7 linked regions of the Homo sapiens genome follow. The protein of the gene in region 1 purifies or fractionates together with the protein of each later gene. This does not show direct contact. Each region holds a gene or a part of one and is shown in the gene's direction. Other genes may lie near its edges. The genes, in order: PHAX, ZNF148, SPATS2, USF2, YTHDF2, FAM20B and PCF11.

Region 1 (3,500 bases):
CAAAGTCCTGGGATTACAGGTGTGAGCCACCATGCCTGACCAATAAAATTTTATTATAGATCATTTATTTCAGATGCCACCTAAATGATGATGTTATAATTATTCTTTTAATTGCTATATTGCTAACAGTCACCATATGTAGAACTTAGAAGCCAGAACTTGACTAAGTTTGTTTTCCTGTTTTAAAATTCCATTTGGGTACATGACCTCACAATTAAGTTTTGTTTTGAAAAATACAAAGTTTTCTGAAGGAAAAAAGCAATAGTTAAAACTTTATTTGCTTTGTTCAAAGAAAAAAAAAAGCTCAGCTAAAACACTAGAGTTAGATCCTTAACTTGGAGAGTTAAGTATATATAGATATGGATGGGAGGGGGGAAATTTTCCCTCAAATTACCTGTCTGCATTTGTGATAAAGATATTAACAACATGTTGCAACAACATTTTGGGGACCATTTCCCACTTTGTTCTATTAAATTCATAACGCATGGGAATGAAGTTTGTTTTTATTTTGTTTATTGTTTATTTTTTTAATTTTTGAGACGGAGTCTCCTAGCTCTGTTGCCCAGGCTGGAGTGCAGTGGTGAGATCTTGGCTCATCCTGGGTTCAAGCAATTCTCCTGCCTCACCCTCCCAAGTAGCTGGGATTACAGGTGCCCGCCACCACGCCTGGCTAATTTTTGTGTTTTTGTTTGTTTGTTTGTTTTTTGAGATGGAGTCTTGCTCTATCGCCAGGCTGGAGTGCAGTGGCGCGCTCTCGGCTCACTGCAACCTCTGCCTCCCGGGTTCAGGTGATTCCCCTGCCTCAGCCTCCCAAGTAGCTTGGATTATAGGCTCGCACCACCATGCCCAGCTAATTTTTTGTATTTTAGTAGAGATGGGGTTTCACCATGTTGGCCAGGATGGTCTCGATCTCCTGACCTCGTGATCCGCCCGCCTCAGCCTCTCAAAGTGCTGGGATTACAGGCGAGAGCCAGCAAACCCAGCCTAATTTTTGTATTTTTTTTTTTTTTTTTTTTTTTTTTTTTTAGTAGAGATGGAGTTTTACCATATTGGCCAGGCTGGTCTCGAACTCCTGACCTCAAGTGATCTGACCACCTCGGCCTCCTGAAATGCTAGGATTACAAGAATGCGCTACCACACCTGGCCAAAGTTTCTTTTTAATAAGGCTTGCCATATTTGGAGAGAAAAGGGCAGTTTCGTAAAATTTACTCAGTGTTACCAAGCATTATACTACTTAGAATTCTTAGCAAGATGCTTGGATATGCTTCCATATAAAATGAAAATGCTTCTACTGTGGCTTCTTCATATTCTTTGAATTAAAGGTAAGTGAACTCTTGGAAAAAATTGCAAATCATCACACTTTTGTGAAGGCAGTATAATAGATTTTAAGAACATTGGGCCGGGCGCGGTGGCTTACCCCTGTAATCCCAGCACTTTGGGAGGCCGAGGCAGGTGGGTCACTTGAGGCCAGGAGTTGGAGACCAGCCTGGGCAACATGGAGAAACCCCATCTCCACTAAAAATACAAAATATAGTTAGGTGTGGTAGCTCACGCCTGTAGTTCCAGCTACTCTAGAGGCCAAGGCATGAGAATTGCTTGAACCCTGGAAATGGAGATTGCAGTGAGCCGAGATCAGACGACTACACTCCAGCCTGGGTGACAGAGCCAGACTCTGTCTCAAAAAAAAAAGAAGAAGAAAAAAAATAAGAATGTAGGAGAAATCAGCAGCTACTTGGGATGCTGAGGCGGGAGGATTGCTTTAGTCCAGGAATTCGAGGCTGCAGTGAGGTATAATTATACACTGCACTCCAGCTTGGGTGACAGCGAGGCCCCATCTCTATCAAAAACTTTTAAAAAGGAGAATATTAGAGAAATCATATGTGAGTTCAGACTTCATACCTTCACATGGTAGCCCTGTAATCTTGTGCCTCATTTTCCACATCTGAAAACAAGGATAGTTAACTACCTCATAAGGCTTTTGTGAGGACGAAATGAGTTAATGTGTGTGTAAAGTCCTTAGCAAAATGCCTGGTACGTAAAAGTACTCACTTGATAACTGGTAGCAAGCCTCATTATATTCTGAATTTACCTTTGTCTTTTCTCACGTATGTACCCTCCTTCTCCCTCCTCAGTTCCTCCTCTTTAGCAAATACTTTTCTTATTTCTCTTCATCAAAACACTCATATTCTGAAGTTTCCCCTTACCTCTTCATTTCAAAGATCTTTACACCTTCCTCTGTTAATTCTGTGTGCTGCTTGTAACTATTTAGCATAAATTTTAGGAGAGAGTCTCCTTCATCCCACCATCTTCCATAGTGCTTTTTATAAACAAGAAGGGATTGGGATTTGTATTCTTTAAGAATATAACAGGGACTGGCTTGGCTTGAGCTTTTTGGAATCCCTGCCCAGGAGATAATAGGGTCCCAGAAGTGTGTCCTGCCTACACTAGCTTCTTTTTTAAACCTTTGAACCGTCTCTGTTTTAGTACAGGTTGACAATCCCTAATCTGAAAATCCAAAATGCTCCAAAACTTTTTGACTTTTTGTTTTGGTTTGGTTTTGGGTTTTTTTTTTTTTTTTTTGAGACACAGTCTCGCTCTGCTGCCCAGGCTGGAGTGCAGTGGCACAGTCTCGGCTCACTGCAACCTCTGTCTCCTGGGTTCAAATGATCCTCCTGCCTCAGCCTCCCTAGTAGCTGAGACTACAGGTGTGTGCCACCACAGCCGGCTACTTTTTGTATTTTTAGGAGAGACAGGGTTTCACCATGTTGGCCAGGCTGGTCTGCAACTCCTGACCTCAAGTGAACCACCCACCTCCGCCTCCCAAAGTGCTGGGATTACAGGCATGAGTCACCATGCCCAGCCTTCATTTAGGAAATTTTTAACTGTAGAGATGATACATTAAGGTAGAATAAGCATGGGCCCTAAACCTAACACTAGGCTGGGTTTAAATCAGTTTCAATCTTGCAATGAGTACTTACTTAATATCTTGAACTCCATCTTAATAATGAGCCTAATAATACTTGTATTTTTTGTAAGAAATGGAGATAATGATTTTAAAGGGACAGTCATGGAATAAACCTTTAATAACGTGGTAGTTCTTGTTTACTAACTTTGTTCCTTTATTACAGGACATTTTCTACATTGAAAACCAAAAGGAATATGAAAATAAAAAAGCTGCTAGGAAGAGGAGAACACAAGTGTTGGGGAAAAAGATGAAACAAGCTATTAAAAGTCTAAATTTTCAAGAAGATGATGATACATCACGAGAAACTTTTGCAAGTGACACGAATGAGGCCTTGGCCTCTCTTGATGAGTCACAGGAAGGACATGCAGAAGCCAAGTTGGAGGCAGAGGAAGCCATTGAAGTTGATCATTCTCATGATTTGGACATCTTTTAAGTACATTTTCAACAGTTTGAGGACTAAGCCTTTCTAAAATAACATTGTAATAAACCATTTTTACTGAGATTGCAACGTTTTGCACTGATAAACATGAGAATC
Region 2 (3,500 bases), on another chromosome or scaffold:
GGTTCATCAAATAAGGATGTACCTATGATTGAATCTTTAATTCTGCACAGTTAGAGTTTATATATAAACGTGTCTTGACAATCAAGGACTTTTATGTGAGTCTTCCTTTATGATGTTTATTAATGTTATGCATTCCATTTGTTTTGAAGTGAGTACCAATGTGCTAATTTGTATTGTCTGAAAGTATGTAATGTTTTTACAGCTTGTTTTTAAGAATCTGTAAATATGTACAAACAAATCACAGTACTGCTTTATGTTAGAAGGCATATGATGTTGTACTGTATGTAAGCAATAATACATAGCAGTGCTAACTTTACAAGTAGCATCAGGAAAGTTCTAAAAACATTTCAGAGTTATTAATTATCCTTATTTCATTTAATAATGATTATCTTTAATCAGTTTTTATAAGCAAATTCCATTGTTCCTCCTATTGGAACGTAACACTGTTTACACAGCATAATTGAAGTTGCAGGGGAGACAGGCTAAATCTGACTTCATCTGTACTCACTTTCACTAAGCATTGAATGGCCTTACCACTCTTCTGCAAGATGGAGGAAGACCGCAAAACTTAGTGCCCATCACACTGAAGGAAGGGATGTGGTTTTTTTTCCTGCTTCTGTACTGCTACCTAACTTTGTGATTTGCTTTGGATTTTAATATTTGTTTCTGTTTTAGATTCAAGCCCGTAAGTTTTGAGGTGACTTCAGCTCCATTGTGAAATAGATAGTTCTCTTCATATTTCATAACTACATTTCAATAATTCTAAACTTTCTACATTGATTTTTAGATACTTATTTTTCAAGCTTGGTTTCTCAGCTGATCAGATGAATTTATTCAACTTCAATACAAAGAAAGACAAACCTATTATAGTTTCAAGTGAGTAGATATTATACTGTACAGGACAGCTATTTGAACACACACATCACTGCTTTAGAAATAAAACCGCCAATTTATAAATGTATATGACCTACATTTTATAGGAAAAAATGTTTTTAAATGCTAGTCATTTATATAATGTGCTTTGAAGGATTTGCTAGTCCACTTCTGTCACTTTTTAGTACACTGGTATCTTTTATATGTAATGTATGCTTTTTATTATTGTAGCAAAGCATTTCAGTAGAAAGAATTTTGCAACAATATGGGGGAAATTTTTCATTGTTGGATTTGAATTATACTGGATTTTATCTGTGTAGTCTTACTTGTCTTTATTTTAATGCTGTCTGAAGGGAACTTGGTATCCAAATAAAGCAGGTAACCTCATTTTACTTCAAGGGCATACTGTGTAGTGCTGAATTTAATCTGAAAATCTGATGATTTTGAAAAGAAAAACAAGTTTATAAACATTGTACAGAAGAAATTAAATGTGTGTGATGGAAATCCTGATGGTGGAGCACGTTGAATTTTCTGATATATAGTGTTATTTTCCTGGGATCCCCTATGCCTTCTTTGTATTTCAACTAATAAAGGAAAAACCCTGTCATTAAAACTGGTAAGATAATAGGATATTCTGATTATACAGTATTACTATTCCTATCCCATTTTCTGACCTTTTCTCAATCACTGTAAATTTTTATTTTCTATTTCCTATTGATAATTAAATATGTACATAATATAGACACTGTTGTATAGAACTAAATGAATTGGGTTGCTATGCTTGAGTGGGTAGTGAAATGGAAATATTTGATGAATACTGAGAGTTCCTAAAATGCTAGAGCAAATTTCCGAGGGAAAGGGGGGCATCGTGTGTCTTGGGAAGGTTGCAGCAGGTTGTTTCTTCAACTCCCTAAGAAATCATTGGGAAGGACTCAACTGCAAACTCGGGATCAGATACAAAATGGGTCTTTCCTTCCCCTCTCCCCCAAAAAATAGGAGCACTAAATTTTAAAATCTACTCAGGTGACAGTTGCTTTGCAATGAAACTTATCACATTGAAATTTTCAGTGTTAAATAAAAAGAGATTTGTGATATTTTTAAATATAAACTTTTACATCAGTAGTCAGCAGCCTGACAATTGAAATTTGGTAAGTCGATATATTTTAAAATATTTTGCTCTCCAAATAGAATTGTTTTTAAACAATTGGGAGGTTTTTTGTTTCTTTAAATATGTTTTAATTGTCATTGTAAAAACAAAATCTTGCTTGACCCTATATTATGCCATGAATGAATTGCTGAGCCTTTATAATACAGTGACAGCTTGTTTCATGCATAGTCATGGAACATAGAGATGTTCTTTAAACTGACCTATTGATAAGAGGTTTAATGAGTTTCACGGCTTTCAACACTATTGTCATATAGTTATCTTTGCCATTTGGAGTTTATAAAACCATTTTATGTATTGTGATACTAAAGGAAGTTGTTTTGCTTTACTTTAAATTGAATTATTAGACTAATATTTGCAAATTCTGCATTTTAAATGTGGACACTGGCTGTTTGAAAAATAAAATATAGAATACAGTTTTATGGATAATTTTCGAGCTGAATTTTTCACAATATTCTGAACCAAATAACGAATGGTAAATATGCAAAAATCATGGTGCATAGATATAACCGTAAAGAGAAAAGAATTTCTGTGTGGAATTAACAGTTACACAAATTGGGTAACAATTATCAGGGCCTTTATTATAGCTTTATGTGGAATGTTATTCTAAAATGCAAGAGTCAAATGTTACTGTCATTGAATATTTTAGACTTGAAACGTGTTTATCATAGAGCGAAGAAAATATGTGTTCTTTTCTTTACAGATAAGACTCTGTTAACCCACTGTCAGCATACGTGGGATTTCTTTTCTTTTTTCTTTCATTAGTGGAGATTTGTTTTCATCCATCTACCACCTTGCCAGTACCCTAGCTTGTGACCAGCGGGATGCATTGTAAGAAAGTTGTCTGTGGTTAGGAGTGCAGTCTGGGTCCATGGAACAAATTTAAACTAATTGGCCCTCGCAATGATCAGTCCTAGGACCCTGGCCTTATTATTAGCATGGTGCTTTAACCAATTGTACATAATAATACCACTGATAGTCTACTAATGCATTTCCTAGATCCCAGTTTTTCTTGAATGATTAGGAATGGTGGGGAGAGGGGAGGGGAGATATTCTACATGATACTTCTCCAATCTTCTAAAGATTATAAGAAAAAATAAAAAATTGAAGTCACTTGAATTAATGTGTTGTCATTGAGTCTTACTCGACAATTTATCATGCACAAAGTGATTATGAAGATTTTCCTGATTATATGTTTGGATTGAATTTAAAAATTTTTTTTTTCAGAATGCTGGCTGTTCTGTTTTATTTCTTCTCTGGTGAACCTGATAGGATATAAATTATATTCATATGATGCATAAAGAATGAATGGAGGTGAAAAGTTTTAAGTGAACTAAAGCTAAAATTTGGGTCTCATAATTTTCTTTCTTTTGTCATTTTCAAGTGTAATTAAAAGGAACATTTTACCCAGACATTCACACAGCTGCATATGCATATGTGTAAGAGCTGGGATGTGAAATGT
Region 3 (3,500 bases), on another chromosome or scaffold:
CAGATAAATGCGGTACGTGCAATAGTTCCTAATAAGAGCAACAATGAAATTATCCTGGTTTTGCAGCACTTTGATAACTGTGTGGACAAAACAGTACAAGCATTCATGGAAGGTAATCCTGACTTAATTTTAAAAATAAATTTATATTTGCTCAAATAGAATTTGCTTCAGACTTTTATAACATTCAGCAATCCAGTGATTCATAGATGATAGAGCAGACCCCATGAAAACATAACATACCATGACATTTGACGATACCTCTTTCAGCTGAAATAAGCTATGTGGTGTCTATAATAAGAGATAAGCTGAGAAAACTCCATTGTTTCACGCTAAATGTTCTCTAATGGTATTTAAGAGGAAATCATGTGGCCAGTGGTATAAGGGACTTGATTGGACTTGGGTTGAATAAGAATTTAAGAGACTCTTAATAACAAAGCAGTGATTCAGTGGCTCACCAACAGATGGCAAATTCAAGGACTCAGTATTGTCTTCCGGATTCTAATATCGTTAGTTTGGCTGTGGCAAGTGACTCAAATGTGTGGGTTTGAATTTCCTTATCTAATACGTAGAAGAATGGCAGGCTTAGTCAACCCTTCAGATTTATAACATTGAGAAGTGTTTTATGAACCTTCCTTCCATGTAACCTGTTGGAGAAAAACTATCTGAAGCTATTGCGTCTTTGAATAGCAACATGAGGTTAGGTCTCCCTGTTTTTATTTTCCTGAATCTGCCAACATAGGATGCACAAGTTTGAATGTTGTAAAGTTTTTCTTTATCTTCATCTTTTTAAAAAATAATGTTAGTGTTTTGGTCTAGGGTAATGTGCAGCTGTCTCCAAAACAACATAGCCAAGGTGGGTGTGTAACTGGAGGGGAAAGGATGGCACACTTGGCTAAAACCAGTGTGCCATCCCCTTTGTATTTGGTCTAAGATGTATGGATAAGAGAATCTTCAAAATGGCCCAGCTACATTAGTCTCTTCTTAGAAGAACTTACTGAGGAAATTACTCGGAGAGGAGGGGTCTAAGTAGGCAGGTATTCCAAAAGGGAAGCATGGCATGATTATCTCATTACATTACTTTAGACCTGATCCTTAACTTTAACTTTTCTGTTAGGAGCTTTGTAAATTCTCCAGCAATTACAAAATGGGAGGACACTGACTCCTGCTTGACTACTGTGTGTGTGGTAGGAGACAAAATCTGTAATTGGTTTCTCTTACAGGTAGTGCCAGTGAAGTACTCAAAGAATGGACAGTAACAGGCAAGAAAAAGGTAAAATGAATTACATTTAAAAGCATGATGATGTGTATATTATTTTTAAAAATTTAGGCTCTGCAAAAATATTTGAAAGAAAAGGTTCACATACATATCTTCTGTTTACCTGGTTAAAAAACATCTTTGGCCAGGTGCAGGGGCTCACACCTGTAATCCCAGCACTTTAGGAGGCCAAGGCAGGTGGATCACTTGAGGTCAGTGGTTCAAGACTAGCCCGGCCAACATGGTGAAGTCCCGTCTCTACTAAAAAATAGAAAAAATTAGCCAGGTGTGGTGGCACGTGCCTGTAATCCCAGTTACTCAGGAGGGTGAGGCAGGAGAATAACTTGAACCCAAGAGGCAGAGGTTGCAGTGAGCCGAGATTGGGCCACTGCATTCCAGCCTGGGTGACAGAGTGAGACTCCATCTCAAAAAAAAAAAAAAAATTCTTCGACCTTGAAACATAGCTGTGTCTCACAGAGTACCACACAGTCCTCTCCGTGTGATTTAAGGCAGGAAACAGAATGACTTTGCCATGGTGCAGTTATTAGACGGGTGAAAAAGACAGCAAATCAAGGAAAGCAAGAGAAAGCGATCTAATTGAGTGGTTTTCAACCATATTCATACCATAAATCAGTTAAAACAGTTCAGATTTTTGGTCGGGCAACTGGGTTGTAGTCCTGATATTAATGAGCTTTGACATAAAGCTGTTAGGTGCTGGCCAGGCACGGTGACTCATGCCTGTAATCCCAGCACTTTGGGAGGCTGAGGTGGGAGGATCACTTGCGCCCAGGAGTTCAAGTCTGGGCAACATGATGAAACCTGATCTCAAAAAAAAGGCTATTAGGTGCCTTGCAGAGGGGTCTGATGTTCCACTTTGAGAGGTAGAAAGCACTCAGGCTATGGGATCAGTCAGAACTGGATTCCTACCCTGTTCCACTATCTACTGGCATTGTGACTGATATTGCTTAACATTTGTGCCTTAGTTTGCTCATCTCTAAAATAGAAAAATAGTTCTAATAAATACAAATACATAATACAACGCCTAACATATTAGTTCTCGTTCCTTTCTCCTTATTTACTTAAAATCAGATGCTTTTCCCAAAGGATACCAGCTGGTCTCAAAATTCTTCCCACAGCTCTGCACTGTAAAGGTAACCCCTTTAGGAAATGCTTGAAGTATGGATTTTAATCAAGTATCTCTGTGAAATCTGTTTGGGGTGTTCTTTTCTTTATTAAGTCAGTGCTGGAGTTCTGAAATGCTTTCATCATGACTCTTACATCACTTTTTAGGAGTCCTGTCAGGTCTTGAACAAAAACCAGGCTTGGCCTCAGTGACGCTTGAGAATTTTTTCCAAGGGTTACCTAATACTACACAGATTCTTCTGAAGCTCTTCATACCTGTAGTTTTGAATATTTGTTTAACTTCTTCCTGCTGCTTTCAACCTGTTACATAGATAACTGTGAGTGTCCTGGAAAACACCAGTTTCTTTTTTTTCTTTTTTCTTTTTTTTTTTTCTTTTTGAGATGGAGTTTTGCTCTGTCGCCCAGGCTGGAGTGCCGTGGCGCGATCTCGGCTCACTGCAGCCTCCGCCTCCTGGGTTCAAGTAATTCTCATGCCTCAGCCTCCTACGTAGGGCGGGACTACAGGTGCGTGCCACTGCGCCTGGCTAATATTTGTATTTTTTAGTAGAGACAGGGTTTCACCATGTTGGCTAGGCTGGTGTCGAACGCCTGACCCCAAGTGATCTGCGCACCTTGGCCTCCCAAAGTGCTGGAATTACAGGCATGAGCCACTGCACCCAGCTAACACCAGTTTCTTAATTTATTAGCCCAGGATTATAAGTTACTAGTGATATAAGATGTGCATGGACCTGGAAGAGGATGTGTGTTAGAGACACAGACATTCCTTAAAATTTGGAGAAAGAAATATGACTTCAGTTTAGCAGTCCCAAATGCACAAATCCAGTCCAGTCCACTTAACTGTTGGGATTAGTCCAATAGGATGTGACTCTGAGTGGGATAGTTATGATATACATGACCCAATGATATGAAAACTTAGCCAGTTCACATGGGGGAAAGTAAGAAAAAGAAAGATGAGGCCGGGCACGGTGGTTCATGCCTGTAATTCCAGCATTTTGGGAGGTCGAGGCAGGTGGATCACTGGAGGTCAGGGGATTGAGACCAGCCTGGCCAACATGGTGAAACCCTATCTCTACTAAAAATACAAAAAAATTAGCTGGGTGTG
Region 4 (4,202 bases), on another chromosome or scaffold:
GTCCGGGGACCTCCCCTATGATGGGCGGCTACTGGAGGAGGCTGTGAGGAAGAAGGGGTCGGAGGAGAGGAGGAGACCCCACAAGGAGGAGGAGGAAGAGGCCTACTACCCGCCCGCGCCGCCCCCGTACTCGGAGACCGACTCGCAGGCGTCCCGAGAGCGCAGGCTCAAGAAGGTGAGGGCCGCCCTCCCTGGCGTCCAGACCGTCCCTGGGCCCCCAGCCGGTCCCCGCGGCTCATACCCTTCTTTCTTTCTCCCTTGCAGAACTTGGCCCTGAGTCGGGAAAGTTTAGTCGTCTGATCTGACGTTTTCTACGTAGCTTTTGTATTTTTTTTTTTAATTTGAAGGAACACTGATGAAGCCCTGCCATACCCCTCCCGAGTCTAATAAAACGTATAATCACAAGCTCTGGAGAGAACCATTTGTTCGGCCGCGCGGGGCGGGGGACCGGGGCTGCTCCCGTATGCGTCTGTAAAGCGCCGCGTCCCGGGGGCACCGGAGTCCGGGGCCGGGAGGAAGAGACCCAGCCTGGCCCGGCCCGCGCCCGCGCCGCCGGCCGGAGAACGTGCCCCGCGCAGCCGCCGCCCGCCTGCGTGCGCGCCCCGGCCCCGCCCAGGCGTGCGCATGCGCCCCGGCCCTCCGCCTTCGCGCACCGCAGGCTGGCCGTCCGGGACGCGCGCGCGCTCCTCTCCCCTTCCAGCCCATCCCCCCCAGCCCCCCACCGACCTACTTTACTGTCTCCAAACTCGGGCAGCCCACCTGGCCCCCGACGACCCCAGCCCCTGCACCGGGTACCCCGACGTTCCATCCAGACCCGCGTTTCACCAGGGCGGCGCGCGGCGACCTCGCGCCCCGCGGAGCCCCGGGCTCGCGCGCGCCCGCCCGCCCCCGGAGACAGACCAGCGCGCGCGCCCCGGGCCGCCTCCCCCCAGCGCGCGTCCGCCCCGGGGCTCGCGCCGCCGCCGCCGCCGCCGCCGCGCGCGCGCAGCTCAAGTAAAGGAGGAAAAAAAAAAGGGGGAAAAATAGAAAGCGGCGGCGGCTGCAGCAGCGATCCGCCGCCGGACTGGGCCAAGCCGGGCGGCGGCCGCGCGAGCCGGCGATCCAGGGCACTGGCGGCGGCCAGCCAGGGCGGGCCGTGTTCAAAAAAAAAAGTCGCGGCGGCGGCGGCTGCTCAGGGAAGGAGGCCTGAGGGCCGCGTGCAGCGGGCGGGCAGCTGGGTGGGCTGGGGGCGGCCGCGCGGCGTCCCGGAGCCTCGGGCCGCCCGGAGCCGGCGGGCGGGCGGAGGCGGAGGCGGCGGCGGCTGCAGCGGCTGCAGGAGCGGCGGCGGCTGCGGCGGCGGCGGCGGCATCTCCTCCTCACATGACCCCACTGTTTGTCCCCGTGATCAGCGCGAGCGGCTCCCGTATCTCCTCCGTCCCCTCCTGCCGCGCGGCGTGAGCGCCGGGCTCGGGGCCCCCCCGGCCGCCCGCCCCCTCCCCTCCCTCCCTCCCCTCCCCTCCCCTCCCCCCCGGGCCCCGCGCCCCCCCCGCCCCCGCCCCCCCCATGGACATGCTGGACCCGGGTCTGGATCCCGCTGCCTCGGCCACCGCTGCTGCCGCCGCCAGGTAAGATCCCCGGCCCGGCCGTGCCCCCGCGCCCCGGCCCCGGCCCCGGCCCCGCGGCCTGCAGGCCGGGGCCGCCATGATCCCGAGCGGCCGCGGGCCCGGCTCAAAATGGAGGCCGCCGGCGCGGGGGGGACCTGGCGCCTCCCGCCCCCGGCCCCCGGCCTCGGCGGCGCCCCCGGCCTCAGGCGCGGCCGGGTGGGACTGGGGCCCTGCAGCTGGGCGCGGGGGCGGGGGCGCGGGCGCGGGCCGCGCTGACCCTGCTCCCTCCTGTGCCCCTGGCAGCCACGACAAGGGACCCGAGGCGGAGGAGGGCGTCGAGCTGCAGGAAGGTGAGTGCTTGCCGGGCCGGCCGCGCCCGGGGAGGGCTGGGGGCGCTCGGCGCGGCCCTGACCGTGCCCCGACCCTCCTCGGCCCCAGGCGGGGACGGCCCAGGAGCGGAGGAGCAGACAGCGGTGGCCATCACCAGCGTCCAGCAGGCGGCGTTCGGCGACCACAACATCCAGTACCAGTTCCGCACAGAGACAAATGGAGGACAGGTGAGCGGCGGGCCGCGAGGGCGAACGGGCGGGCGGGCGGGCGCGCCGGGAAGGCTCGGACCTGGCCCCAGCGCCGGCCTCGCCGCTCTGCCGCCCCCTGCAGGTGACATACCGCGTAGTCCAGGTGACTGATGGTCAGCTGGACGGCCAGGGCGACACAGCTGGCGCCGTCAGCGTCGTGTCCACCGCTGCCTTCGCGGGGGGGCAGCAGGCTGTGACCCAGGTGGGTGTGGACGGGGCAGCCCAGCGCCCGGGCCCCGCCGCTGCCTCTGTGCCCCCAGGTCCTGCAGCGCCCTTCCCGCTGGTAGGTGCCCTGCCACCCCTGGGTGGGGGGGGGAGGGAGTGGAGAGGGGACACTGGCTCTGCTCTTGGGGAGCCCCGGGGGTGGGGCAGGTGTCGCCCAGCGGATGCTGCCTTCAGGCCTCAGGCTGCATGGGGCCAGATCCCTGTTGTGCACCGTGAAACCTGGGGACAGTGCTCTTGGAATTTTTTTTTCCCGCAAAATGGGAATGATGTGTCTTAAGAGGAAAGTTTCTTAGAGTGCGAAACGGATTTGCTCAGCAAGTGATCGCTGACCTCCCGCCATGTTCCAGGGCTGTTTGAAACACAGGACAGAATGCTACACGCAGAAGGAGTCCCCACTCCTGTTAATTGCAGAGAATGCAGTAAACCCCAAGCACAGCAATGAGGGGACGGGATGGAGGAACAGAGAAAGCTAAGGGTAGCCTCTGCCCTCCTACTCCCCAGGCTGTGATCCAAAATCCCTTCAGCAATGGTGGCAGTCCGGCGGCCGAGGCTGTCAGCGGGGAGGCACGATTTGCCTATTTCCCAGCGTCCAGTGTGGGAGATACTACGGCTGTGTCCGTACAGACCACAGACCAGAGCTTGCAGGCTGGAGGTGAGGAGTAGAAGTCAGATTGGCAGGTGGGGGAGGCAACGGGCCCAGCAGGGAGGGAAGCCCCCCCAGCCAGTTCTGACTTCACCCTGCCTTGCCACTAACCCCCCACTCTCCCTGCAGGCCAGTTCTACGTCATGATGACGCCCCAGGATGTGCTTCAGACAGGAACACAGAGGACGATCGCCCCCCGGACACACCCTTACTCTCCGTATGTGCAGGGGACACCTGGAGGGCCTGGTGTTGAAATGGAAGGAAGAGGGGTTTCTGGAGTAGAAGCTGGGCAGTTAGCATGAAGTGGGCACATGGTGTAATGTTTTTTTTCTTTGCCTGTTTCTGCTGCTCTAGTGCACATAAAGTATCATGTCTTTTGTTTTTGCAGATGGATTTACCTTGCAAAGATAATTTTCAAATCTAATACTTAGCAGATGCTTGGGCAAACAGCTCTGCGATAATACATGCCCCCTTTTTTTTTCCTCCTCTTGTAGAAAAATTGATGGAACCAGAACACCCCGAGATGAGAGGAGAAGAGCCCAGCACAACGAAGGTGAGGACAAGGTGTGGCTCCGGGTCCCCCTGACCACCACCCTCACAGGCTCAGCCAGCCCTGGAGTGTGGAGTGACAGAGAGAGAAGCCACTCCTGGGCAGGCCACAAGTGCTCCAGAGGGCTTTGCTGGACGCTGTAAAGGTAGAAAGTGAGCAACGAGGGGAGAGTACAGTGTCAGAAGTAGAGGGACAGGGAGTGTGAATTGGAACTGGCCATTTGTTGACCCGGCTGGTGATCTTGAATTCATGGCCCACATCTAAGATGGTGGACTTCACACTCCCATACGGATTGCCTGCCCCACTTGAAAAATGGGGCTGACCGGGCTCACGTGGGCTGACCTTTCCACGTGGCAGCTGTCATGCTCACATCCCGCACTCCCATGCCTGCCTGGCCTCCAGAAGTAGGTCTGTTCCCCCAGGGAGCACATCTGAGGGAGAAACTGCATGAAGTTCTGCCTCTGGCTACCTAAGGCCGGAGCATCCTGCCCTTTCCAGAAACACCAGGTCTCACCTCAGGTCATTTGGCCTTCAGCACTGTCCCGCCCCGCCTGTCAGTAGCCACTGCAGTGGGCACAGCACTGTGCAAGTGCCAGGAGAGTGCTTACACCCAAACAACCATC
Region 5 (3,500 bases), on another chromosome or scaffold:
CTGAAAGGTCAAGAAATTTATAAGTTCTGAACGTATGCTGTATGAAACATAGTTGGTAGTCCTGAATAACTGCATGCCCATATATGGATCTGATTATCACATAAAACTTGTAGAATCCCTGTGTAAAATTTTCAACACTGAAAGTATAGAAACCACTTGAGCAAGTGATTGGAAAAAAGTTTTCACAAAACACAACCAGTTAATCAGGAAAAGTAGGGAAGGAAGTAGAGGAATGAACTATTAATAGGTTCCTGCTATTGAAGTAGTTTGCTTACATAATCATTATAACAGGGAGAGTTGGAGCATTTAGAAGCATAATTCTAGGTAGTTCTTGTAAAACATTGTGTAATTCAAATTTTTTAGCTTGAGCATGTGGGAGCCTGCCAGTTCAGGTACAGACATTCAACTGTGTCTTGGCATAACCTGTGATATTAAGTGCATTTGATTTTTCTTTCTCAGGTAAGCCAAAGCTTAAATGTCTTTGTTTAAAAAAAATTTGGCTAATAATATAAATCTTAGATGAGTAGATGAGGAAGGGTAACCTGAGAATCTAGTTCATTGTCTAGAGTAAGTCATCTACTTTTTAGCCAATTTTTCATTACCCTATTTTGGAATAATACTTCAAGTTTAATCTGTTGATTATAGGCTGAATTTCTTATATATGTGGATTTGGGTCTGCTAAAATTTTTAACCTTACCTTTGTGAGAAATTTTAAATGTGAAAAGGGTATGTGTGAAAAGACCTCACTTTTGTTTTTATGTATTATTTATTTATTTATTTTTGAGATAGAGTCTCACTCTGTCACCCAGGCTGTAGTGCAGTGGTGCGATCTCGGCTCACTGCAACCTTCACCTCCTGGGTTCACACCATTCTCCTGCCTCAGCCTCCCGAGTAGCTGGGACTACAGGCGCCCGCCACCATACCTGGCTAATTTTTTGTATTTTTGCTAGAGACGGGGTTTTAACTGTGTTAGCCAGGATGGTCTCGATCTCCTGACCTCGTGATCCTCCCACCTTGGCCTCCCAAATTGCTGGGATTACAGGTGTGAGCCACCGCGCCCGGCTATTTATTTTTTTTGAGACGGAGTCTTGCTCTGTTGCCCAGGCTGCAGTGCAGTGGTGCAGTCCGGCTTACTGCAACCTCTGTCTCCTGAGTTCAAGCAATTCTCCCACCTTAGCCTCCTGAGTAGCTGGGATTACAGGCAGGTGCCACCACGCCTGGCTAATTTTTGTATTTTTAGTAGAGACGGGCTTTCACCATGTTGGCCGGGCTGGTCTCCAACTCCTGGCCTCAAGTGATTTGCCCGCCTCAGCCTCCCAAAATGCTGGAATTACAGGCGTGAGCCACTGTGCCCGGCCTGTTTTTATTTTATTTTTTTGAGACAGTCTGGCTCTGTTGCCTGGGCTAGAGTGCAGTGGTGCCATCTGGGCTCACTGCAACCTCGGCCTCTTGGATTCAAGTAATTCTACCGCCTCAGCCTCCTGAGTAGCTGGGCCTACAAGTGTGTGCCACCATGCCTAGCTAATTTTTTGTCTTTTTAGTAGAGACTGGGTTTTATCATGTTGGCCAGGCTGGTCTCGAACTGACCTCAAGTCATCCACCCCTCTGTCTCCCAAAGTTCTGGGATTACAGGCGGGAGCCACTGCGCCTGGCCATATTTCTCATTTTACATCCTCCAGAAACCACTGTGCATTTCCTTTTCAGGTTATAACTGAGTAGTGGGATCTATTGATATTCCCAGATAGTTTGCCAAGAGGCTAGCACTATAAACTGGTAGTGAACCTTGCTTTTTGGTTTATGATTGAGGAACGGCTGTACAGACATTTGGGCTAGAACTTGAAATTTCCATTTCTTTTTGTTATTCTTGTTTTATTATCACCTGGTTTGTATAGGAAGTTGATAAAAGGATTATCTCAACACTCAGGACTTAAACAGTTTGTGAAATGCTAAGTTTTCTCTTTACTTAGTTGTAGTGCTAAAGCTAAGGCCCATATTCACTGTATCAGCTTAACTTTAAATGTTTAAACATTTCAGTTATTACACCAAAATTTCTTATGATATAAAAAATGCCCTTGTGTTTATAGGAAATCATCTGATGTGCTGCACACTTTTTTTTTTTTTCCTGGAGATGGAGTTTCACTCTTGTTGCCCACAGGCTGGAGTGCAGTGGTGCGATCTAAGCTCACTGCAACCTCCGCCTCCTGGGTTCAAGTGATTCTCCTGCCTCAGGCCTCCCAAGTAGACAGGGTTTCATCGTGTTGGCCAGGTTGGTCTCGAGCTCCTGACCTCAGGTGATCCACCCGCCTCCACCTCCCAAAGTGTAGGGATTACAGGTGTGAGCCACCGCGTCCGGCCTGCACACTCCTTTTTATAGTATATTTGAATTGCGTGACTAGGTGGGGGGAGGAAATAGCCTGATGTTAATTTTTTGTGTTTTGATTTGCCTTTTTTTTTCTTCCACAGAATAATGCATATACTGCCATGTCAGATTCCTACTTACCCAGTTACTACAGTCCCTCCATTGGCTTCTCCTATTCTTTGGGTGAAGCTGCTTGGTCTACGGGGGGTGACACAGCCATGCCCTACTTAACTTCTTATGGACAGCTGAGCAACGGAGAGCCCCACTTCCTACCAGATGCAATGTTTGGGCAACCAGGAGCCCTAGGTAGCACTCCATTTCTTGGTCAGCATGGTTTTAATTTCTTTCCCAGTGGGATTGACTTCTCAGCATGGGGAAATAACAGTTCTCAGGGACAGTCTACTCAGAGCTCTGGATATAGTAGCAATTATGCTTATGCACCTAGCTCCTTAGGTGGAGCCATGATTGATGGACAGTCAGCTTTTGCCAATGAGACCCTCAATAAGGCTCCTGGCATGAATACTATAGACCAAGGGATGGCAGCACTGAAGTTGGGTAGCACAGAAGTTGCAAGCAATGTTCCAAAAGTTGTAGGTTCTGCTGTTGGTAGCGGGTCCATTACTAGTAACATCGTGGCTTCCAATAGTTTGCCTCCAGCCACCATTGCTCCTCCAAAACCAGCATCTTGGGCTGATATTGCTAGCAAGCCTGCAAAACAGCAACCTAAACTGAAGACCAAGAATGGCATTGCAGGGTCAAGTCTTCCGCCACCCCCGATAAAGCATAACATGGATATTGGAACTTGGGATAACAAGGGTCCCGTTGCAAAAGCCCCCTCACAGGCTTTGGTTCAGAATATAGGTCAGCCAACCCAGGGGTCTCCTCAGCCTGTAGGTCAGCAGGCTAACAATAGCCCACCAGTGGCTCAGGCATCAGTAGGGCAACAGACACAGCCATTGCCTCCACCTCCACCACAGCCTGCCCAGCTTTCAGTCCAGCAACAGGCAGCTCAGCCAACCCGCTGGGTAGCACCTCGGAACCGTGGCAGTGGGTTCGGTCATAATGGGGTGGATGGTAATGGAGTAGGACAGTCTCAGGCTGGTTCTGGATCTACTCCTTCAGAACCCCACCCAGTGTTGGA
Region 6 (3,500 bases), on another chromosome or scaffold:
CAGGAGTTCGAGACCAGCCTGGCCAACATGGCGAAACCCCGTCTCTATTAATAATACAAAAATGAGCCGGGCATGGTGGCAGGCACCAGTATTCCAGCTACTTAGGAGGTTGAGACAGGAGAATTGCTTGAACCTGGAAGGCAGAGGTTGCAGTGAGCCGAGATTGTGCCATTGCACTCCATTCTGGGTGACAGAGTGAGACTCTGTCTCAAAAAAAATAAATAATAAATAATAATTGGTTTTTTTAAAAAAACTCTGTATTAGAGAACAGAGAAATTGAAAAATGAGTCAAGAAAATGAGATAAAGTCTAAGCTCTAAGAAGCTTCTTTTCATCATTCCTGAAATAATTTTATTTTACTATTTTATTTTTTATTTTATTATTTTTTTGAGACAGGGTCTGCATCTGTCACCCAGGTAGGAGTGTGGTGGTGCGATCTCAGCTCACCGAAATCTCTGCCTTTCGGGTTTAAGCAATTCTTGTGCCTCAGCCTCCCGAGTAGCTGGGACTACAGGCACCTGCCACCAAACCCAGCTAATTTTTGTATTTGCAGTAGAGACGGGTTTCACTATGTTGGCCAGGCTGGTGTCAAACTATTGACTTCAAGTGATCCGCCTGCCTCAGCCTCCCAAAGTGCTAGGATTACAGGCGTGAGCCACCGCGCCCGACCATCCTGGTGTAATTTTAGAGCACGCACATCAAGAATTAGCTGGGATCCACCTTGCTTGGCTACACAGAAAAACAAGTTCAAGAGCACCATTTAATACTGGTCAGCTCCCAGCAACATCATATCACATAAGACTGCCATAGCAACTGGTCTCTTAATCTTCTTTCTTTTTTTAAATGACAACAAAATTCTGTAGAAAGTAACAGTTTACCCAGGCTGTCCTTCATTGTCTTTATTAATGATAGGAAGCAGTGATATATACAATCAAGAATTGTGTGTTTGTCTTTGAAGATGTTTTTGTGGTAGTAGTTTTATCAGTCTGGTTCAATCAGGAGATAGCAAAGACATAGTGTGATAAACAGAGGTGTTTAATATAAAGAATTTTTTTTTTTTGGAGATGGAGTCTTGCTCTGTCACCCAGGCTAGAGTACAGTGGCGCGATCTCGGCTCACTGCAGCCTCCACCTCCCATGTTCAAGTGATTCTCCTGCGTCAGCCTCCCAAGTAGTTGGGATTACAGGCGCCCCTCACTGCATCTGGTTAATTTTTGTATTTTTAGTAGAGACGGGGTTTCACCATATTGGCCAGGCTGGTCTAGAACTCCTGACCTTGTGATCTGCCTGCCTCGGCCTCCCAAACTACTGGCATTACAGGCGTGAGCCACTGCGCCCGACCCAATATAAAGAATTATTAAATTCCAATAACAGGAGTGACTATAAAAGGGCTGAGGGAGAGTACCCAAGGAAGGACAAACTTGGAAGGGGATCCCCTCCCAATGACTGGAGTTTGGACTTCAGTGGAGAAGGTTTAGCTCAGCCCACCAGATAGCAGAGAAGTTTGCTAGTTTGCAGGTGCTGAGCAAGCCAGAAGCAACTCTCCAGAGTGCAGGTGGGGTGTACATTCAAGCCACAGCTGGTGTCATGACATGCAGAAGGAGAGAGAGAATCCAGTAGAAACCTTCTGTGCTGCAAGTGAGGCACACACGTGGGCCTTCAGAGGGAATTGGGGCCAGGGTGAGCAGATGGCCTTCAAAGCTCTGGTTTCCATGTTGAGAGGGCCTCGGGAGAGTTATCCCCAGGCCAGGCTAAGGCTTCAGGTCACCAAGGACCCACACCTTCTGGGAGTGTGGCTAGACAGGTCTTCAGTGGATGACCTCTCTGCCTCCCCAACACCACCATTGACCCACAGAAGCATTTGGAGAGCCCCTTCACCCTGCAGTGTCCCCTTTGCGCCCTCTAGTGAGAATGCTTTAGGGGAAAGATGCTTAAAGGAATCCCATCCGTCGTAGCAGAGCACATTTTGTTTTTGTTTTTGTTTTGTTTTGTTTTTTGAGATGGAGTCTCGCTCTGTCGCCCAGGCTGGAGTGTAGTGGCACGATCTCGGCTCACTGCAACCGCTGTCTCCCGGGTTCAGGCGATTCTCCTGCCTCAGCCTTCTGAGTAGCTGGGATTACAGGCACCTGCCACCACGCCCAGCTAATTTTTTGTATTTTTAGTAGAGATAGGGTTTCAACATGTTGGTGGGGCTGGTCTCGAACTCCTGACCTCAGGTGATCCGTCCGCCTTGGCCTCCCAAAGTGCTGGGATTACAGGCATGAGCCACCGTGCCTGGCCAGCAGAGCATATTTTGAAGAGTGAATTTGGAGCTGAGAGGAAGTAACATAATAACTTAGTCTCACAGAGGAAGCTCTGATGCTCTGGGCATTTGTAATATATTTAAGAATAAAAATAACTGTACTCCGTCTGTGCCTGTTTGTCCCTTCCATGCATGCTTTATGCAGCAGTCTTTCTTACCTTTTAAATTGCTGCACAACAGGCTGCCTTTTACAGAATCAGACATTTCTGCATACCCAGTAATTCCTCCTTTACCCACAGAGAGCTAAGAACTTTTCTTCTCAGATTTTAAATAAAAGATATGCTATAGTTGGTGTCTTAGTTCGTTTTGTGCTGCTGTAACAGGATACCACAGACTGGGTAATTTATTTTATTTTATTTTATCTTATTTTGAGATGGAGTCTCGCTCTGTTGCCCAGGCTGGAGTGCAGTGGCGCGATCTTGGCTCACTGCAACCTCCGCCTCCCAGGTTCAAGTGATTCTCATGTCTCAGCCTCCCAAGTAGCTGGGATTACAGGCATGTACCACCATGCCCGGGTAATTTTTGTATTTTTAGGAGAGATGGGGTTTCACCATGTTGCCTAGGCTGGTCTCGAACTCCTGACCTCAAGTGATCTGACCCCTTGGGCCTCCCAGAGTGCTGGGATTACAGGCATGAGCCACCATACCTGGCCAGACTGTGTAATTTATAATGAACAGAAATTTATTGGTTCACAGTTCTGGAGGCTAGAACGTTAAATATCAAGGTGCCAGCATCTGACAAGGGACTTATTGCTGTGTCATCATGTCACATGGCAGAAGGCAAAAGGGCAAAGAGAGAGGGCAACAAGGGGCTGAACTCGCCTTTTTTTTTTTTTTTTTTTTTTTTTTTGAGATGGAGTCTTGCTCTTTTGCCCAGGCTGGAGTGCAGTGGCACAATCTTGGCTCACTGCAACCTCCACCTCCCGGGTTCAAGTGATTCTTGTGCCTCAGCCTCCCAAGTAGCTGGGATTACAGGCACCTGCCACCACGCCCAGCTAATTTTTGTATTTTTAGTAGAGACGGGGTTTTACCATGTTGGCCAGCCTGGTCTTGAACTCCCAACCTGAGGGCCCACCTCGGCCTCCCAAAGTGTTGGGATTACAGATGTGAGCCACCGCTCCTGGCCTTGAACTTGCCTTTTAATAACAGCATTAGTTCCACCCATGAGGGCAGAGCACTCATGGCCTAACGACCTCTTAAA
Region 7 (3,500 bases), on another chromosome or scaffold:
TGCTTATAATACTATAGTGTTCCTCTGTAGAGAATACATGGAGAATGGTATTAAGAAATTTGTATGTCTCTTCTTAATTGAAGAAGTAAGTGAAGTAACTGCTCAGCCTCCCCCTGAAGAGGAGGAAGATCAAAATGAAGATCAAGATGTTCCAGATCTTACTAATTTTACAGTTGAAGAATTGAAACAGTATGTAATCTAATTTTCTTTAAGATAAAGAGGCAGTGACTTTAATAACACTGTTATAGTGGACATTGTTACTATTAGTGCTTTCCCTTTCCCTTTATCCCTTTTACTGTTTTAACATTTAGGAAGTCTTTTTTTTTTTTTAATGTGGTAAAATATACATAACATAGTCTTTGGGAAGCCTATTTTTAAATCGTCTTTTAAAATATGTCTGCTGTACAAGTACTTGGGCCAAAGGCCACCCCCAAAAGTCTTACTCTGCTGCCCAGGCTGGAGTTCAGTGGCGTGATCCTGACTCACTGCAACCTCTGCCTCCCAGGTTCAAGTGATTCTCCTGGGATTACAGGTGTGCACCACCATACCCAGCTAATTTTTGTATTTTTAGTAGAGATGGGGTTTCACCACGTTGGCCAGGCTAGTCTCGAACTCCTAACCTCCAGTGATCCACCTGCCTTGGCCTCCCAAAGTGCTGGGATTACAGGTGTGAGCCACCACACCTGGTCCCTCAAAATTTTCATTTTTTAATCTGTGATACAGAAAACTTAGGGAGTTTAAATATTAGGTATTGATAATTCATGTATTCCTGTTTAGTTTCATTTTCTGTGTATCATCATTTTTTCTGTATTGATATTCTTAACATTTTTGAGGTTCAGAAATGAGATTTTCATAGTTCAGCATTTACAATTAAAAAAAAATCGGCTGGGCGCGGTGGCTCACTCCTGTAATCCCAGCACTTTGTAAGGCCGAGGCAGGTGGATCACGAGGTCAGGAGATCGAGACCATCCTGGCTAACAAGACCATCCTGGCTAACATGGTGAAACCCCGTCTCTACTAAAAATACAAAAAATTAGCCGGGCGCAGTGGCGGGTGCCTGTAGTCCCAGCTACTCGGGAGGCTGAGGCAGGAGAATGGTGTGAACCCGGGAGGCGGAGCTTGCAGTGAGCCGAGATAACGCCACTGCACTCCAGCCTGGGCGAAAGAGCGAGACTGTGTCTCAAAAAAAAAAAAAAATCTATTTTTCATTTTATAAGTAATGTTAATTGTGGAAAATTAGAACATACTATAAATAAAATCAAGAAAACGTACAACTCTCACTTTATGGATAACAACTGTTAACATTTGGTGCATATCTTTTCATAATTTTCTATTGTATTATAAAAAACATTTAAAGATTTTTCTAGTGAATAAATTCATTAATCCTGTGAGTACTTTATAAAAAATAAAATAGTGAATGAGTTTTTCACTCTTAAAATCATTTTTTAAATTTGAATTAGATACTATAATGTAAAATCCTTTTTTTTTTCAAAGTAATACTTTCACATAAAGGCTTTTAATAAAAGATGGCATCCCTTTCTCCTTCACCCAACACTGTACCCTAGAGGCAATCATTTTATTTTTTTAACTTTTCAAACTATTTTTTCTGCCATTTACCTCTTTTTCCTTTTTTTTTTGAGACAGAGTCTCACTCTGTCACCCAGGCTAGAGTGCAGTGGCCCTGTCTTGGCTCATTGCAACCTCCGCCTCCCAGGTTCAAGTGATTCTCCTGCCGCAGCCTCCTGAGTAGCTAAGATTATAGGCACCCATCACCACGCCCAGCTAATTTTTGTATTTTTAGTAGAGATGGGGTTTCATCATGTTGTCCAGGCTGTTCTCGAACTCCTGGGCTCAAGTCATCTGCCCGCCTCGGCCTTCCAAAATGCTGGGATTACAGGTTTGAGCCACCTATTTCTTATAATACACATAATTTTCTGTTTCTTGATTTACCACATCTGGACATAATCTCTTAACTTTCTGAAAGTGATTTAGGCTGGGCGCAGTGGCTCATGCCTGTAATCCCAGCACTTTGGGAGGCTGAGGTGGGCAGATCACCTGAGGTCAGGAGTTCAAGACCAGCTTGGCCAACATGGTAACATGTCTCTACTAGAACCTGTCTCTACTAGAAATACTAAAATTAGCTGGGCGTGGTAGTGGGCACTTGTAATCCCAGCTACTCGGGAGGCTGAGGTGGGGAGAATTGCTTGAACCCAGGAGGCGGAGGCTTTAGTGAGCTGAGATCGGGCCACTGCACTGCATCCTGGGTGACAGAGCGCGAGACTCCGTCTCCAAAAAAAACGGGCGGGGGGTGGATTTAGCTAGCTCTTGTAGTGTCCTACTAACTCCCCTCCATGTAGTTATAAGACTGTTTTTTATTATTCAGTATTAATATTGTGACTAGATGTTTATTTTGTTGCTGTAACAAAGTACCAGTGTTCTGTTATTTGCTTTATTCTATTTTTTTTTTTTTTTTTTTGAGATGGAGTCTCACTCTGTGGCCCAGGCTGGAGTGCAGTGGCGTGATCTTGGCTCACTGCATCCTCCGCCTCCCGATTCAAGTGATTCTCCTGCCTCAGCCTCCTAAGTAGCTGGGATTACAGGCATGTGCCACCACACCCAGCTAATTTTTGTATTTTTAGTAGGGACAGGGTTTCACCACGTTGGTCAGGTTGGTCTTGAGCTCCTGACCTCGTGATCTGCCCACCTTGGCCTCCCAAAGTGCTGGGATTACAGGCGTGAGCCGCTGTGCCCGGCTATTTTTTTTTTTTTTCTTGGAGTTAATAACTGCTCTGTTTGTTCACTTACTTGGTCTTCTATATATACCTGTTTCTTCCCAAATAGGGAGCCCAGAATTTAAAAAACTAATTATTTGTTGACCACAGCAAACTAATTATTGTTTCCCAATGGTATTCTAAGTTTTCTCTTTAGTTATCCATACTATTATTATTTCTTCTGTCCTTTTTTCACTGTTACACCAGAGTGGAGAAGTTGAATTATTCAGAATGCCAAAGATCTAGAGAGGTGAAATTTAACTGTTCTGCCATGTCCATCTTGACTTGACTCCAAACTAAAATAAGCTAACTATTGCCTTGTTAGCTAGCACAGGATCATTTCATTTTTAGCTAAAAGGAAATAAATAACTGGGTCAGGGCTATCAATAAGAAGACAGGCTCCATCTTCCAAAAGTCACCAAAGTTAAGGTAAAGAGGGTCAATCACATTGTTAGAGAATAATACTGATCTTTGGGTATTAACTGTTTCAGCCAGCTCTTGGTTTCACCATTGTTACAGTATGGAAAATTGAAATATTTGTAATTGGCTTTTAAAGGCCATTAAGCCATATTATCAACACTAAAGATTATTTCTTTTTCAAAATAGACGTTATGACAGTGTTATAAATCGACTGTACACTGGTATTCAGTGTTACTCTTGTGGAATGAGGTTTACAACATCACAGACAGATGTTTATGCAGATCATTTGGACTGGCATTATCGGCAAAA

The links.
Region 2: the proteins of PHAX (region 1) and ZNF148 purify together in Homo sapiens (affinity purification with mass spectrometry; one large-scale study listed by BioGRID and IntAct). This does not show direct contact.
Region 3: the proteins of PHAX (region 1) and SPATS2 purify together in Homo sapiens (affinity purification with mass spectrometry; one large-scale study listed by BioGRID and IntAct). This does not show direct contact.
Region 4: the proteins of PHAX (region 1) and USF2 purify together in Homo sapiens (affinity purification with mass spectrometry; one large-scale study listed by BioGRID and IntAct). This does not show direct contact.
Region 5: the proteins of PHAX (region 1) and YTHDF2 purify together in Homo sapiens (affinity purification with mass spectrometry; one large-scale study listed by BioGRID and IntAct). This does not show direct contact.
Region 6: the proteins of PHAX (region 1) and FAM20B purify together in Homo sapiens (affinity purification with mass spectrometry; one large-scale study listed by BioGRID and IntAct). This does not show direct contact.
Region 7: the proteins of PHAX (region 1) and PCF11 purify together in Homo sapiens (affinity purification with mass spectrometry; one large-scale study listed by BioGRID and IntAct). This does not show direct contact.

What each region holds. Positions count from the first base shown.
Region 1 is NC_000005.10:126,621,447-126,624,946, forward strand, and holds part of PHAX (phosphorylated adapter RNA export protein), read left to right. Parts: intron 1-3,128; coding exon 3,129-3,398; 3' UTR 3,399-3,500. UniProt on the Homo sapiens protein: A phosphoprotein adapter involved in the XPO1-mediated U snRNA export from the nucleus.
Region 2 is NC_000003.12:125,225,326-125,228,825, reverse strand, and holds the end of ZNF148 (zinc finger protein 148), read left to right. Parts: 3' UTR 1-3,157; downstream 3,158-3,500. UniProt on the Homo sapiens protein: Involved in transcriptional regulation. Represses the transcription of a number of genes including gastrin, stromelysin and enolase. Binds to the G-rich box in the enhancer region of these genes.
Region 3 is NC_000012.12:49,489,462-49,492,961, forward strand, and holds part of SPATS2 (spermatogenesis-associated serine-rich protein 2), read left to right. Parts: intron 1-3; coding exon 4-112; intron 113-1,220; coding exon 1,221-1,270; intron 1,271-3,500.
Region 4 is NC_000019.10:35,267,560-35,271,761, forward strand, and holds the start of USF2 (upstream stimulatory factor 2), read left to right. Parts: upstream 1-1,402; 5' UTR 1,403-1,542; coding exon 1,543-1,604; intron 1,605-1,886; coding exon 1,887-1,933; intron 1,934-2,021; coding exon 2,022-2,140; intron 2,141-2,243; coding exon 2,244-2,444; intron 2,445-2,887; coding exon 2,888-3,038; intron 3,039-3,158; coding exon 3,159-3,246; intron 3,247-3,523; coding exon 3,524-3,582; intron 3,583-4,202. Other genes in the region: LSR (lipolysis-stimulated lipoprotein receptor isoform 2 precursor), read left to right, coding at 1-175, 265-300.
Region 5 is NC_000001.11:28,739,940-28,743,439, forward strand, and holds part of YTHDF2 (YTH domain-containing family protein 2), read left to right. Parts: intron 1-2,463; coding exon 2,464-3,500. UniProt on the Homo sapiens protein: Specifically recognizes and binds N6-methyladenosine (m6A)-containing RNAs, and regulates their stability. M6A is a modification present at internal sites of mRNAs and some non-coding RNAs and plays a role in mRNA stability and processing.
Region 6 is NC_000001.11:179,067,394-179,070,893, forward strand, and holds part of FAM20B (glycosaminoglycan xylosylkinase), read left to right. Parts: intron 1-3,500. UniProt on the Homo sapiens protein: Responsible for the 2-O-phosphorylation of xylose in the glycosaminoglycan-protein linkage region of proteoglycans thereby regulating the amount of mature GAG chains.
Region 7 is NC_000011.10:83,177,631-83,181,130, forward strand, and holds part of PCF11 (pre-mRNA cleavage complex 2 protein Pcf11), read left to right. Parts: intron 1-30; coding exon of another isoform or gene 31-77; exon of another isoform or gene 78-83; coding exon 84-189; intron 190-3,377; coding exon 3,378-3,500. UniProt on the Homo sapiens protein: Component of pre-mRNA cleavage complex II, which promotes transcription termination by RNA polymerase II.